4 linked regions of the Homo sapiens genome follow. The protein of the gene in region 3 purifies or fractionates together with the protein of the main gene of each other region. This does not show direct contact. Each region holds a gene or a part of one and is shown on either strand. Other genes may lie near its edges.

The links. The genes of interacting proteins can lie anywhere in the genome.
Region 1: the proteins of SBF1 (region 3) and UQCC1 purify together in Homo sapiens (affinity purification with mass spectrometry, with the first as the bait; one large-scale study listed by BioGRID). This does not show direct contact.
Region 2: the proteins of SBF1 (region 3) and WDR55 purify together in Homo sapiens (affinity purification with mass spectrometry; 2 studies listed by BioGRID and IntAct, with this or other methods). This does not show direct contact.
Region 4: the proteins of SBF1 (region 3) and COL1A2 purify together in Homo sapiens (affinity purification with mass spectrometry; 2 studies listed by BioGRID and IntAct, with this or other methods). This does not show direct contact.

Annotation. Positions count from the first base shown.
Region 1 is NC_000020.11:35,384,474-35,387,973, reverse strand, and holds part of UQCC1 (ubiquinol-cytochrome c reductase complex assembly factor 1), read left to right. Parts: intron 1-3,500. UniProt on the Homo sapiens protein: Required for the assembly of the ubiquinol-cytochrome c reductase complex (mitochondrial respiratory chain complex III or cytochrome b-c1 complex). Involved in cytochrome b translation and/or stability.
Region 2 is NC_000005.10:140,663,404-140,667,703, forward strand, and holds the start of WDR55 (WD repeat-containing protein 55), read left to right. Parts: upstream 1-1,500; 5' UTR 1,501-1,509; coding exon 1,510-1,700; exon of another isoform or gene 1,701-1,754; intron 1,755-1,961; exon of another isoform or gene 1,962-2,034; intron 2,035-3,640; exon of another isoform or gene 3,641-3,710; intron 3,711-4,300. UniProt on the Homo sapiens protein: Nucleolar protein that acts as a modulator of rRNA synthesis. Plays a central role during organogenesis.
Region 3 is NC_000022.11:50,465,036-50,468,535, reverse strand, and holds part of SBF1 (myotubularin-related protein 5), read left to right. Parts: intron 1-74; coding exon 75-160; intron 161-612; coding exon 613-750; intron 751-842; coding exon of another isoform or gene 843-845; coding exon 846-1,004; intron 1,005-1,087; coding exon 1,088-1,198; intron 1,199-1,825; coding exon 1,826-1,931; intron 1,932-2,053; coding exon 2,054-2,186; intron 2,187-2,277; coding exon 2,278-2,386; intron 2,387-2,461; coding exon 2,462-2,575; intron 2,576-2,695; coding exon 2,696-2,773; intron 2,774-3,207; coding exon 3,208-3,321; intron 3,322-3,406; coding exon 3,407-3,500. UniProt on the Homo sapiens protein: Acts as an adapter for the phosphatase MTMR2 to regulate MTMR2 catalytic activity and subcellular location. Promotes the exchange of GDP to GTP, converting inactive GDP-bound Rab proteins into their active GTP-bound form.
Region 4 is NC_000007.14:94,401,395-94,404,894, forward strand, and holds part of COL1A2 (collagen alpha-2(I) chain precursor), read left to right. Parts: intron 1-172; coding exon 173-226; intron 227-3,161; coding exon 3,162-3,206; intron 3,207-3,298; coding exon 3,299-3,352; intron 3,353-3,444; coding exon 3,445-3,498; intron 3,499-3,500. UniProt on the Homo sapiens protein: Type I collagen is a member of group I collagen (fibrillar forming collagen).

The DNA of each region.
Region 1 (3,500 bases), on a different chromosome or scaffold from region 3:
TTATAAGATTGTTGTGAGATAACATAAGTAAAACACCAAGCATGTAGGTAGGTACTAGACATACAGGAGATCTTCAGTAAGTTGCAATTGCTATTTTTGTTGCTATTTATGTTCCTGTTGCTTGGGAAAGTTTTCTCCTCACTGTATGAAATGAAACTTAAAAAAAAAAAAAAAAGTTGTCCTAAAATTACCTTTACCAAATTGCAACCTCTCCCTTTGTCTTAGTTTCCTCATCTGTGAAGTGAAAAGGTTGGACCAGAATATCTCTGAGATTTCTTCCAGCTCAAGTGTTGTTATTCTGAGTTACTCTTTAGTTCTTCAGTTGCCTTTTCTCCAAGCTAAACAGCCTAAATTCCTTTTGACCTTTCCACTAGGACCTTTTATTCATCCCTTTGATCATTCCTGTGGTTCTTTTTTTGGACGTTCTCCAAAGTTGTCCTCTTTGAAAAAAAAAAAAAATCCACCTAGTTTTTATTGAGTAATGACTTCATGCCCAGAATGGTGTTGAGTATTGGGACAGAAAATGACAGACATATAAGATGGGCTGTGCCCTGGAGCTTATAGTTGCTAAAAGGAGCAGACACACACGCCCATGGTATTCAAGAATCGCTTGAGTTTGTCCCAGCACCCCCTTTCTACTTCTCTGCCTCTGTCATTCTTGTTTTTTTATTTTTTATTTTTATTTTTTGAGACAGAGCCTTGCTCTGTCACCCAGGCTGGAGTGCAGTGGCATGATCTTGGCTCACTGTAACCTCCGCCTTCTGGGTTCAAACGATTCTCCTGCCTCAGCCTCCTGAGTAGCTGGGATTACAGGCACACACCACCATGCCTGGCTAATTTTTGTTTTTTTTTGGAGGGGGGTAGAGATGGTGGTTTGCCATGTTGCCCAGGCTGGTCTCTAACTCCTGGACTCAGGCAACCCTCCCGCCTCGGCCTCCCAAAGTGTTGGGATTACAGGCGTCAGCCACCACGCCCAGCCTATTGATATTTTCTAATCTAAGCAAAGGAAAAATTGAGGTCTTTAAGGGTCGAGTGAATTTTTTGCGGGAAGTGCAAGGACAAGAGTGGGTAGTACAAAAAAGTAAATGTGTGTGTTTATAAGTGTGTAGGTGTGGAGAAACTAGATGTCCTTGATACTAGATACATAGGTACTTTAGTAGTTCAATATAGTGTGAAATGTTAGCTAATGGTAGGATAGAAATACAGTAGATGGTAGGACAGCCACAGAAGGAATCTACTGGTTACTCCTAGAGCTGTGAGGAAAAAGAAGGATCTAATAGAACCTAATAGAAGAGGACCCAGCCCAAAGCACAGCTTGTGGAAACTGCTGTTGGCTGTGTTCTTTGAACCAGTTTAAGTGCTTTGTGTTTTAGGTGGACCATTGCATTGATGTATGTGATGTAATGGGGAGGTGTTCTGTGTTTAGTCTGTGTTTTACAAAGCCTGCTTGATACTTATGAATTAAAGCCTAAGTGTCCTTGGGACTGACCAGAAGAATCCTGACTAATTTTTTAATATCCTCGTTTGGAAAGAAAAGTAAATAGTAACATTCCACAATTAGAAATTCTATTTTTTCTTCGTTAGGGTTAAAGAAAAAAAATCATTTTCATTCCATGTGTTCCATTTCTTCTTGGAATAAACCAGAATTGAAGAGTCAGCCCTCTTCCTGCTCCCTCTCACCCTTTTTTATTGTAAAGGTAATATAGCATTAGTGAGAGTTTGGAAACTAGATTTTTTTTTTTTTGCCAGAATTATTTTGGCTATAGATTCTTAAATTTATCCATAATTCTAACTTAACAAAATAACTCTTTGGTTTCTTGTGTGTTCTTTCTAAACTTGCCCATATGCAGTCTACGCAGTCATGTTTTACCTATAATTTTATACATATTATAAGCATTTAACATTTTTCATGTTGTTAACAATAATAATAATCTCTGAGTAAACCGTGCAGTCTGAGTGATGATGATGTGTCAGTGTAGGTTTGTTCTTTGTATCAAATGCACCACTCTGGTATGGGATGTTGATGGCGGGGGAGGCTGTGCATGTGGGGGAAGGGGTATGTGGGAACTCTGCCCTTTCCAGGAAGTTTTGCTATGAGCCTAAAACTGCTGTTAAAAAAAAAAAAAAAAGTCTATTTAAAAAAAAAAAAATCCCAGCCAGGCACCCAGGCTCATGCCTGTAGTCCCATTTTGGGAGTTCAAGGCATTTTGGGAGTTCAAGGCAGGAAGATCACTCACTTGAGCCCAGGAGTTTGAGGCCAGCCTGGGCAACATATGGAGACACTGTCTCTACAAAAATACAAAAATCAGCAGGGTGTGATGACAGATGCCTGTAGTCCCAGCAACTCAGGAGGCTGAGGCAGGAGAATTGCTTGAGCCGGGGAGGTGGAGGTTGCAGTCAGCTGAGATTGCACCACTGCACTCCAGCCTGGGCCATAGAGCCAGACCTTGTCTCAAAAAACAAAAACAAAACAACAACAACAAAAACAAAACAAAAAACCCTCAATGGATACCTGATTTTCCACTGAGTGACTGAACTTTCATTAACCATCTCCTTAATGGACTTTCCTCCCAGTTTTCATTCTGTATAGTATCTGGCACATAATAACGGCTATTTTATTGCCAAATTGTTTTTAAATGCAATGTGAACATGAAAAAGGTGGCGATTGTGATCCAAACAATAATGCTGGTGATGATAGTGATGATGGAAACTTCTGCTATTTATTGAGTGCCTATTTTGTGAAAGGCACTTTATATATCTTACCTTCTTTCATCCTTACTGCAACTGAGGTTCAGTAAGTTTTCCATGGCCACTGAGCTTGTCGTAGGCGACAGAAGCAGGTTTTAAACCTAAAAGTGGCTGGTGTCTTTATTTTTTTCCCCATATACGGCACTGCTGCCCATATTTAAATAGATAGATACTACAGTTCTGTTTCCTAGAATTGACTTAGATGTAGTTCCAGGTTTCCAGGGCTGAATTCTTTTTTTTTTTTTTTTTTTTTTTTTTTGAGACCGATTCTTGCTGTGTTGCCCAGGCTGGAGTGCAGTGGCATGATATTGGTTCACTGCAACCTTTGCCTCCTCAGTTCAAGCTATTCTCCTGCCTCAGCCTCCTGAGTAACTGGGATTACAGGCATGTGCCACCACACCTGGCTAATTTTTTGTATTTTTAGTAGAGATGGGGTTTCACCATATTGGCCAGGCTCTCAAACTCCTGACCTCAAGTGATCCATCCACCTCGGCCTCCCAAAGTGCTGGGATTACAGGTGTGAGCCACGCCACCTGGCCTTTGAATTCACTCTCTCTCTCTCTTTTTTTTTTTTTTTACAGACAGGGTCTTGCTCTTGCTGAGTCGCCCAGGTTGAAGTGCAGTGGTGTGATGATAGCTCCCTGCAGCCTCGATCTTCTGGGCTCAAGTGATCCTCCCACCTCAGCCTCCCAAGCAGCTTAAGACTATAGGCATGCACCACCACACCCAGCCAATTAAAAAAAAATTTGTAG
Region 2 (4,300 bases), on a different chromosome or scaffold from region 3:
ACACCATGGTTCTATGGATGTAGGTAGGCAGTCCCAATTATTAAAAATGGTCACAGAGACATGGCACAGGTGAAGACATCTGGAGAGTCACTAAAAGCAAGACCTGGAGATTGTGGGTTTGAAATTCAGTTTCTGAGGCCAGGCTCGATGGCTCATGCCCACAGTCTCAGTGCTTTGGGAGGCCAAAGCAGGAGAGTCTCTTGAGGCCAGGAGTTCATGAGTCTATAGCTATGCAGGAGGATCGAACCGAAGAGTTCAAGGCTGTAGTGAGCTATGATCACACCACTGCATTCTGAGCCTGGGTGACAGAGCAAGACCTTGATTTAAAAAAAGAAATTCAGGGGCTGGGCGCCGTGGCTCACGCCTATAATCCTAGCACTTTGGGAGGCTGAGGTGGGAAGACACGTCAAGAGTTCAAGGCCAGCCTGGGCAACATACTGAGTCCTCGTTTCTACAAAATATACAAAAATTGGCCAGGTGCGGTGGCTCACGCCTGTAGTCCCAGCACTTTGGGAGGCCAAGGCGGGCGGATCACGAGGTCAGGAGTTTGAGACCAGCCTGGCCAACATGGTGAAACCCTGTTTCTACTAAAGATACAAAAAATTAGCTGGGCGTGGTGGCATGCGCCTCTAGTCCCATCTACTCGGTAGGCTGAGGCAGGAAAATCTCTTGAACCCGGGAGACGGAGGTTGCAGTGAGCCGAGATCGCACCATTGCACTCCAGCCAGGGCGAGACTCCGTCTCAATAAATAAATAAAAATTAGCCAGGCGTGGTGCCGCGTGCCTGTAGTTCCAGCTACTCGGAGGATCGCTTGAGCCGAGCGGTGATCGTGCCACTGCACTCCAGCCTGCGCGACAGCGCAAGACCCTGTCTCAAAACAAAGCAAAACAAAAAAGAAAAAAAAATTCTTGGTAACTGAGCACTGCTTGTCCAGCCCATTGAGTTTCTGTAGACAAATTGTAGGAACTGGCACAGCAAACTGGCCACAAAGACGTTAGGGGCGTGGACACCAGCTGCTTGAGCTGCCTGCTGTCCCAGACTCCCGTATGTCATCGCGCAGCGTGGGATTTTGCGGCTTCCTGACAGCCCAGGCTGTCGCTTGACTTGATCTTGGGTTTCACCAAGCCACGAAGGACTAGCGTCCCTCTCTCCTATCCCAAGGGCATTAAGCCTGTCTGGATGAAGTAGGAGAGGAAAGATTTACACGCAGTTCTCAACTTTACGTGACGTGACTAGGGAGGGAATTGACGGTCGCACCGTCTACCTAGCCCAAACGGGGTCACAGCAGGACAAGGAAGTAGCCGATCTCCCAGATGCGGTCTCTTCGCTCCGCTCCACCCGCACCAGCAGCGGCCCACCCACCTCTCCTGTAAGAGGAAGAACGTCCCGGAGACACTTCCGGCCCCGCCCCCCGAGGCGGAAGCGGAGTGCCAGGCTACTCCTCCCGCAGTGTGGGTGGTTCCGAGGCTGACTACCCTGCGGCGGCGCGGCTCGCAGTCCTTCTCAGCATGGACCGCACTTGTGAGGAGAGGCCCGCTGAGGATGGGAGCGACGAGGAGGACCCAGACTCCATGGAAGCCCCAACCCGGATCCGGGACACTCCGGAAGACATCGTGCTGGAAGCTCCGGCTAGTGGGCTGGCGTTCCATCCGGCCCGTGACCTACTGGCTGCAGGGGACGTGGACGGGGACGTGTTCGTGTGAGAGCGGGGCAGGGCCGGGGCGCCGGGTCTGGAAGCTTCCCGGGGGTGGACCTGGGAACAGGAGAGATGAGAGAAAGTTGCAGGGAGACAAATTTTGCAAGATTCTTTGGGTCCAATTTATTCAGTAACATTCGGCTCTTCTATCACACCAATCTGTTGAAAGAACTGGAATGTCGTGACAGAGCCCAGATACCGTAGTAGGCCAAAAAGCCCTTTAAGGCCTTGTTATTTCCCACCGATTATTATTTATTTACTTACCTATTTATTTTTGAGACGGAGTCTCGCTCTGTCGCCGAGGCTGGAGTGCAGTGGCGCGATCTGGGCTCACTGCAACCTCCCCCTTCCGGGTTCAAGCAGTTCTCTTCCTCAGCCTCCCGAGTAGCTGGGATTATAAGCGCCCGCCACCACGCCCGGCTAATTTTTTTTGTATTTGTAGTAGAGACGGGGTTTCACCATCTTGGCCAGGCTGGTCTTGAACTCCTGACCTCGTGATCCACCTGCCTTCCTCCCAGAGTGCTGGGATTACAGGCGTAAACCACCGTGCCCGGACTCCTACCGGATTATTATATTGTGCCCGAGACAGGCTCAGCAGGCCCCTTTAAGTGATTTTTCAAACCACAAATCTTGGCTCACGCCTGTAATACCCGCACTTTGGGAGGCCGAGGTGGGCGGGTCACCTGAGGTTGGAGCTCGAGACCAGCCTGTTCAACATGGTGAAACCCCGTCTCTACTAAAAATACAAAAATTAGCCCGGTGTGGTGGCGCGGGCCTGTAATCCCAGCTACACGGGAGGCTGAGGCAGAAGAATCACTTGGATTCGGGCGGTGGAGGTTGCAGTGAGCCAAGATCGTGCCACTGCACTCCAGCTTGGACAATAGAGTGAGACACTCCCTTGATTAAAACCCTTCAATGGTCTGCTTTTAGGATTTAGTACAAATTTCTCAATCCTGCCTTCAACGCCCTGACCATCTGTGCTCATTCATCCATACCTTTTAAAAATACGTCTTGGGCCGGGCGTGGTGGCTCATGCCTGTAATCCCAGCACTTTGGGAGACCAAGGTGGGGTATCACCTGAGGTCAGGAGTTGGAGACCAGCCTGGCCAACATGGTGAAATCCTGTCTCTACTAAAAATAGAAAAATTAGCTGGGTGTGGTGGCGGGCACCTGTAATCCCAGCTTCTCGGGAGGCTGAGGCAGGAGAATCGCTTGAACCTGGGAGGTGGAGGTGGCAGTGAGCCGAGATCGTGCCATTGCACTCCAGCCTGGGCAACAAGAGCAAAACTCCATCTCAAAAAAAAATCTCGAAACCTCAGCCCATTTGCATGTGCTATTCTGTCCGGAAAACTCCTTTCCCCTCACTTTTACCTACTATCTCTGAGTTTCCAGGATCTCTTCCCTCTTCCTCTCTCCCCAGACTAAAATTGGTTACCTGTTAGATGCTGCCATGGCACCAGGTGCCATGGTACCTTTCCCTTAATAATGAATGGTTGGTAACCATATGTCCATTTGTGTAATTATTTGAATGCTGTCTCCTTCACTAATGTTTTTCAAACGTCTTTGACCTTGCCTCACAGAGAAATACCTTTTACATTATATATGATGCTCTGTGATACAATTGCTGATTTTATTCTATTATTGTGTACATGTACACAAAATGCTGATCGTAGCTTACTAGTCCGTTATATGACTAGAATGTGAAAAAACACTGTTCTGGAGTGTAATCTGTCATCGGTTTTGTTCTCTATTTTATCTCCAACCTCTAGTCTAGGGTAGATGCTCAACACATGTTTGATTTTGAACAAAAGATACAGGTTAGAGGCAGTGGAAAAGTTGAAGATGTTATGCTTATCAGATTTACTTAATGAATTTAAACCTCAACCCCTCATTAGCTGTAATGGCCTTGAGCGTGTTAACTTCTGTATTTTCATCTTTGAAAGGGGGAATTATACCTACCCTTGCAGAGGGGACAAGTTTGCAGTACAGCACCTAAGCAGCTCTTCAACAAATGTAGGTTCCCTTCTACTACTATCCATATTTATGGTGCCAGGCACTTGGGAGTTGCCCTAGACATCCACCTTTCTTCACATTCCACACAACTTTGTTGCTTCCCTTGTCTTAAAAAAGGTTCTGGAGGAAAATTCTTGGTTCTCCCCTTCCCCACCCTCAGCCATGACTATTGTGAAAAGGTTCCTTTTCCGAGGATTAAATTCAAACTTCTGCTTGGCTCATGTGGTCTCATGCCCACCCCAGCCCATCTTTCTAGATTCAGTCATGCTACTCTCCTGCTACAAGGAACCCTCCTCATTCCTTATCTCTGCTGCCTCCAGTATCTGGCCCTTGCTCTCTGCCAGGCAAATTCTACTCTTGTATGATCCAACCCACATGTCACCACCTTAGCTTTCCAGGGCTCTCTTCTCCCTTCCCAAGTATTCATTCAATTTGTGAATGTTTATTAAGCTACTTTTTCACGTTCAGCACTGGGATAGAGAAAATGAGCAGGCTCAGTTCTGCCTACCTGGAACTCACTGGCAATTAAGCATGTATTCATTCTGCCCTTTTTGAGGATCTGCTCTGAGGCAGGCACTTGGGGGTATTCC
Region 3 (3,500 bases):
CACCCTGGGATCCTCAAGCCTCCTGGTGGGTGGGGGGCGGGTTGGGTGCTCTGACCCCCTGTTCTTGTCCTCAGGGAGTGGGGAAGGCCAGGGCCAGATTCTGCAGCGCTTCCCAGAGAAGGACTGGGAGGACAACCCATTCCCCCAGGGCATCGAGCTGGTGAGTTGGGGGCGTGCTGAGACGGTGCTGGCAGGTGGGGAGGGCAGGTGGGCACAGCCCTGCCCTTGTCCCTGACTGAGGGGCCTCCACAGTGCCCGGCCCCCCGCTGGGCTAGGGACAAGACAGCAGAGCCTCTGTCGGGGGGTTTGACCGGCTTGGCCGGCGGCCTGTGCGGTGCTCATGTCACTGTGTCATGTTGTCACTCACTCATGATGGTGGGGACTGTTCTCCCATCTCCTGGTCCTTGCCCCAGGTGGGGAGGTCAGAGGCTGTTACTCCCTTCACCCGGAGAGACTGAGGCCCAGGAGGCCACGTGTCCCCAGGGTCTCCAAGCAAGGAGCTGCCTGTGTGTGTTGGAGCCTCCAGGCCTGGTGGTGCAGATGCTGGGGCGGGTGGGCTGGTTCCTGCCACAGGTGTAGGGGGAGGAGCTGACTGCTGAGCCTTCCCTGCAGTTTTGCCAGCCCAGCGGGTGGCAGCTGTGTCCCGAGAGGAATCCACCGACCTTCTTTGTTGCTGTCCTCACCGACATCAACTCCGAGCGCCACTACTGCGCCTGCTTGACCTTCTGGGAGCCAGCGGAGCCTTCACAGGTCAGCTTGGGGCCTCTGGGTACAGCATGAATGAAGCTGCATCCTTGGGCCGTGGCCAACTCCCCCTGCCCCCGTCTCCCCCTGACCCCCAGCAGGAAACGACGCGCGTGGAGGATGCCACAGAGAGGGAGGAAGAGGGGGATGAGGGAGGCCAGACCCACCTGTCTCCCACAGCACCTGCCCCATCTGCCCAGCTGTTTGCACCGAAGACGCTGGTACTGGTGTCGCGACTCGACCACACGGAGGTGTTCAGGGTGAGGCCGGCAGCCGGGGCGGCGAGGCACGACGAGGGTGCTTCCATCGGCTGTCCCACCACTCCCCGCTCTGGTCATTGCAGAACAGCCTTGGCCTCATCTATGCCATCCACGTGGAGGGCCTGAATGTGTGCCTGGAGAACGTGATTGGGAACCTGCTGACGTGCACTGTGCCCCTGGCTGGGGGCTCGCAGGTGAGTTTTGGAGGCAGCTGGTATCTGCACAGCCACAGGCCCTCCTGCTGGGGCCCTGGTAGGTATTTGGAGCCCAGCCAGAGCCACACACAGCTGGAGGCCTTGGATGCTCCCTCTTGCGTCCTCGTGCCACCATTGCCCCCAACAGTCCTGGCCTGCTTACCTGGCCCTCGCACCTGTGCTCTGGGCCTGTGTCGTTCAGCCTCTCTGTCCACTCCTTTGATGGTGTGTGCCTGTCTCTGGATGTTGATGTCAGCTTGTTTGTCTGCTCCCTGCCCTGTGCCTGGGTGTGTTGGAGTGTCTAACCGTGTCTTTCTGCCCGTCTGTCCTGTGCAGCTGGACTCTGTTGAGGAAGGAGCGGTATGGATTCTTTGTTTCTTCCGCCCACCTAGGCCCCATCCCTACCCCCAAGTCAAAAGCAGCCACTCCTGTCCTGAGTTTTCTCTGCAGCTGCTTGGGACAACAGAGGCAGGGCATGGCGTTTCCCTCTTGCCATGTTGCCCATCCCAGCCAGTCCCACCTCGGGTCTGTCAGTACACCAGGGTCTGCCTGGGGACACAGAGCTCTGGGCTGACTCTGGGCTGGCTCTGGCCAAACTACTGAGCCCCGATCCTTTTTTTGCTGCAGAGGACGATCTCTTTGGGGGCTGGTGACCGGCAGGTCATCCAGACTCCACTGGCCGACTCGCTGCCCGTCAGCCGCTGCAGCGTGGCCCTGCTCTTCCGCCAGCTAGGTGAGCCTGTCTGTCCCACCCCCGCATGGCTTCCCCTCGGGGACTGGTAGTTAGGGATGTGGGTTCTCACTCTGCCTGGGTGGGGGCCCAGGGTCCTCTCCAAGCTTCTCTTCTTCCTTTAGGCATCACCAACGTGCTGTCTTTGTTCTGTGCCGCCCTCACGGAGCACAAGGTTCTCTTCCTGTCCCGGAGCTACCAGCGGCTCGCCGATGCCTGTAGGGGCCTCCTGGCACTGCTGTTTCCTCTCAGATACAGGTGACCCCTGCCCGGCCCTCCCAGCCCCTTCTCCTGGCCCCTTTGCCCAGCCGCGTCCCCTGGCTCACTGCATCCTCTGGGGCCTGCACAGCTTCACCTATGTGCCCATCCTGCCGGCTCAGCTGCTGGAGGTCCTCAGCACACCCACGCCCTTCATCATTGGGGTCAACGCGGCCTTCCAGGCAGAGACCCAGGAGCTGGTAAGGGCTGTGCTTTGTGTCCACCTCACGGCCCAGGCCTGCAGGTCCCTGACTGCCGGCTCCCTTGGTCCGCAGCTCGATGTGATTGTTGCTGATCTGGATGGAGGGACGGTCACCATTCCTGAGTGTGTGCACATTCCACCCTTGCCAGAGCCACTGCAGAGTCAGACGCACAGTGTGCTGAGCATGGTGAGGGGCACCATGGGCAAGCGGGAGCCTTGGGGGCCTTTGGGATGTGGCTACCTGGCAGCACGGGGAGCCTAGAGCCGGGGCCAGCGTGCAGCTGCCTGCTCCATTCTGTGCTGGCAGGTCCTGGACCCGGAGCTGGAGTTGGCTGACCTCGCCTTCCCTCCGCCCACGACATCCACCTCCTCCCTGAAGATGCAGGTGGGGGTCGTTGCTGCTCCTGCATGGGGACCCCAGGCACTTAGGCTGCCCCCACTCAGGTCTGCTGCCACTGACACACAGGGCCCCACCCCCAGGCTGGCCCCGGCTCCAGTAGCAGAAGCAGGAGCCTGGGAGCAAAGCAGCTGCCAGCAGTTAGGAGTGGTGGTCGTGAGTGGTGCAGGCGAGGCGGCAGGGGCCCAGCAAGGGGCTGGAACTTGGCGTCTGATCACAGGAGCCCTTGAGGGTGCTGAGCCAGGAGTGCCTTGTCCAGACAGTTTCAGAGGAGCTGGTGGCCCTGAGTGCAGAATGGTGGGAGGGGCAGAAGGATGGGAGCGGGGCAGCTTGGGGTGGGTTGGGGTGTGGAGAAGCTCCTGGGCAGCCTGGGGTGGGGATTGGCAGGACTGGCTCTCACCTGCACTCAGCTCTTCTCCCAGGACAAGGAGCTGCGCGCGGTCTTCCTGCGGCTGTTCGCTCAGCTGCTGCAGGGCTATCGCTGGTGCCTGCACGTCGTGCGCATCCACCCGGAGCCTGTCATCCGCTTCCATAAGGTGGGGTGCCTGGTGGCTGGGCGTGGGGTAGGAGATAAGCGCATGGTGGAGACCCCTGAGGGACCGACCTCCTTCTGTCATCCAGGCAGCCTTCCTGGGCCAGCGTGGGCTGGTAGAGGACGATTTCCTGATGAAGGTGCTGGAGGGCATGGCCTTTGCTGGCTTTGTGTCAGAGCGTG
Region 4 (3,500 bases), on a different chromosome or scaffold from region 3:
TTAGGAATTTAGTTCAATATAGAATTTTAAACTAATAATTATATCAAAAACATTGCCCTCTTTTAAATAACAACAGAAAAATATTTACAAGTAGAATGAGAAAATGAACTACATGACTAGTAACTAAAAATATTTTATATATATATATAATTTTTTTTTTTTACTTCTCTAGAACTTTGCTGCTCAGTATGATGGAAAAGGAGTTGGACTTGGCCCTGGACCAATGGTATGCTTATCTGTTTATCTTAGCCAAAAAAATTGCTAAATAAATCATTCATTTTATGTCACATTTTACCACGCCATTTATTTAGCTACCTAAGTTAACACTCAATACTTAGATTATATAAAAACAACTCTTTTTGTTTTCAAATTTATGAAAACATAAGTTAAGGAGTTCACTTTTCTTTACAAAAGAAAGATTAATTGATCTTTTATGATTATATGATCTTTTTGATTATATGATCCTCATTAAGATAGATCATATACTTATGTCCAAGAAATAATCTTTGGACATAGTAACCATAACTTGGGCAAATCAATTTAATTTAAAACAGTAATCACTCTGATTAATTTTTTAATATTCTTTAACATTGCTTAGAATTTTAAGCAACACTTAGAGGCATAGAACTATTTATTAAGTTCTCTGAACTTGTTGGAAAGGATCAACAAGTTCTATCTAGTCCAGCTAACTCATTTTAAAATGGGAGAGTTTAAGCCCTTTTCTCAAAGTCATCCAGGTAACTAATGACATAACTAGAACTAGATGCCAGGCAAGATGTCTAATATTTGCTTACATCATGGTTTATGTACCTAGTCCTTGAATAAACCACTCATTTAGTCAACAGATATTAATCAGATGCCTTCAATGGGCCCTAAACTGTATTAGGAACTGGGGAAATTACAAGGAATATGACAGATTCTGATCCTTCCTCAAGGAGTTAACAATATAGGAAATGTTTCTTTTTCTGAATTTTGACCAAAAAAATCCTTTTTTAGTCTATTGATTGTAAATCTATATAGAAGAGAGTATGAGTAAAAATCTAGCATTTATGTCACTCAGTACAAATATTCAGCACCATACCCTATCAGTGGAGCACCGCTTAGAAACATTCCCTATATGATGATGATGATGATGATGACTATTAACAAATGAAGCTTCTAACAAGCATTAGAGAGAAGTTTGAAGGGAAAAATGCTAATACGAGCATGCAAAATGTATACTAGCATATATGAAATAGAGGGGAAAACTGCCAGAAGTCAAAGTGTTAGGTTGATTAAGCACTACAGAATTTAATGTATACACACACACGCAATTTAGTGATTTTAATTAATTGTTTCAAAACAAAGGTATTTATCTGCCCAAAGTCAACAAGGTCTTTAAAATGTAAATTTTACCTGGGCAGTGCACTTAGTGCTCTATCTTCAAAAGAAGATGTTCTGCTGGAGCTAATGGCCCACAGTAAGCTAATATACTCTAAGGGTGAGATAATATTTTCTGTAAATTAAAACTCCCACTTGAGAAATAATGTACCTTTAATTGACGACTTCTAATTCCCTAATTTTTTCTGGTAGTTTAAAATGTTCATATCTGAAATGAAAAAGTAGAGTGTTTCTTTTGGCTTTGTTTATATTGGATTTTTGAAATTAGCTGTTTCAGCTAATGCTGGACATTAGTCAGTTTTAAAGCAGTACCTACATCTCAAGAAGAAGCAAGGGGGCGGAAAGTAAAGAGCTACTAAATGTCATTTTTAAAAAGCCCACTAAGCTGGGAAAATTAATATGGATTTCAGATACCCCTGTTTTCGGAACATCTGTCTTGGCATAAAGCAGAGTATTTTACTTTGAAATATCAGTGAAATATAATTTAAGCTTGCACATCCACACACATGCACAGACATATGTAATCAACAGATATCTGTTTCACAAATAGGGAAGATAGGCAGCAATAAAGTATTAAAATAATTTCCATGTTGGAAAATCAATAACTATAAAACCCCACAGGGTTCTTCTCTGAATTAATGAGTAATCACAGCCTCCATGAAATACACTACATTTTATGTAAATGAAATTGTTGCAAATACATGAAAAAATAAATATAATTAGAAATTCATGATGTCAAAGAAAATTATTTTTTAATGTATGCCTAAAAAGCTATTGTGATGGAAAAGTGACAGTTTCTTTTAATGTCAGAGCAATTTCTAAAACCAAATGAATAATTCTTATAATTAAAATGACATACATTTTAGATAAAATCCATGTTATTTCACTCTAGGCATTAATACAGTAAGGTAGGTTTGACTGCAGAGTCCCCACAGCTGATGTCATGAACAAATTACTTGAGACTGGTACATGAAATATTTTCAGCATTATGAGGAACAGACCCTACGGATGAGCTTACACAGGCACTGATTACTGCAAAGAGGAGTCAAGAAAGTGTATTTAGCTTACAAACTATTAACAGCCTGTTTTACCCTACTTTTGTGCTATGGAAACAACAAAGGGGAAAACAATCTTCCATCATTTGGGCCATATTTTCAACAATAATATCATATAATAGACTCTTCCAGAAGGCTGTTTCAATAATGTTTTATTTTTCCTTCACCCCTCATTACATCCACTTTTGTTTGACATTTTCATCAGTCACCAATAACCCTTAGAGGAGCGATAAGGTTATAACAAACTTCTCTCTAATCATTAAGAAGGACTTTTGATTCTTTTCAATTTATGTCCTTTGTGGCAATAAAAATACCAATTTCTTAGCTAAATATGACATAGGAAGATGACATATGATCAAAGATATCCAAATGGACATGCTTCATCTGCTGTATAGAAGACAATTGTATATTCTGCACTTCTGCAAAGACTGATTCACTTCATTGCATCAGAACAATCTCAATATGCCCAATTGTGCACAACTTTAAGGAACCTATCTGCCCCGTCTAATTCTCATTGATTTCTGTTGATAAGGATTGGGAGAAAAGGAAAAGCAAAGGGAGAGAACTAGTGCAGGAAGTTTGAGTCCTTAAATTCTTCCTTGGGAGGAATAAAAACTATGGAATCAAACCACAACAATGGCACTGCTAAGTTGGTCATATCTGACCCCAGCCAACACCATGACAACTTATCAGTGCTAACTGTTGATATATCTGCTTTCTTTACAGGGCTTAATGGGACCTAGAGGCCCACCTGGTGCAGCTGGAGCCCCAGTAAGTACTGAAAGCTTGTAATGCCTCTTATGTAAAAAGACAGAGAATTAAGAAATAAAGGCTTGGAGTATGACATTCTTTTTTTCTTTTAGGGCCCTCAAGGTTTCCAAGGACCTGCTGGTGAGCCTGGTGAACCTGGTCAAACTGTGAGTACATTTTTCCACCTTTGTGATAAGTTTTTTTCCAGGAAGTTTATGAATATAACCTTAGTGAAATGATGGGTCTCCCATTTTCTTAGGGTCCTGCAGGTGCTCGTGGTCCAGCTGGCCCTCCTGGCAAGGCTGGTGAAGATGT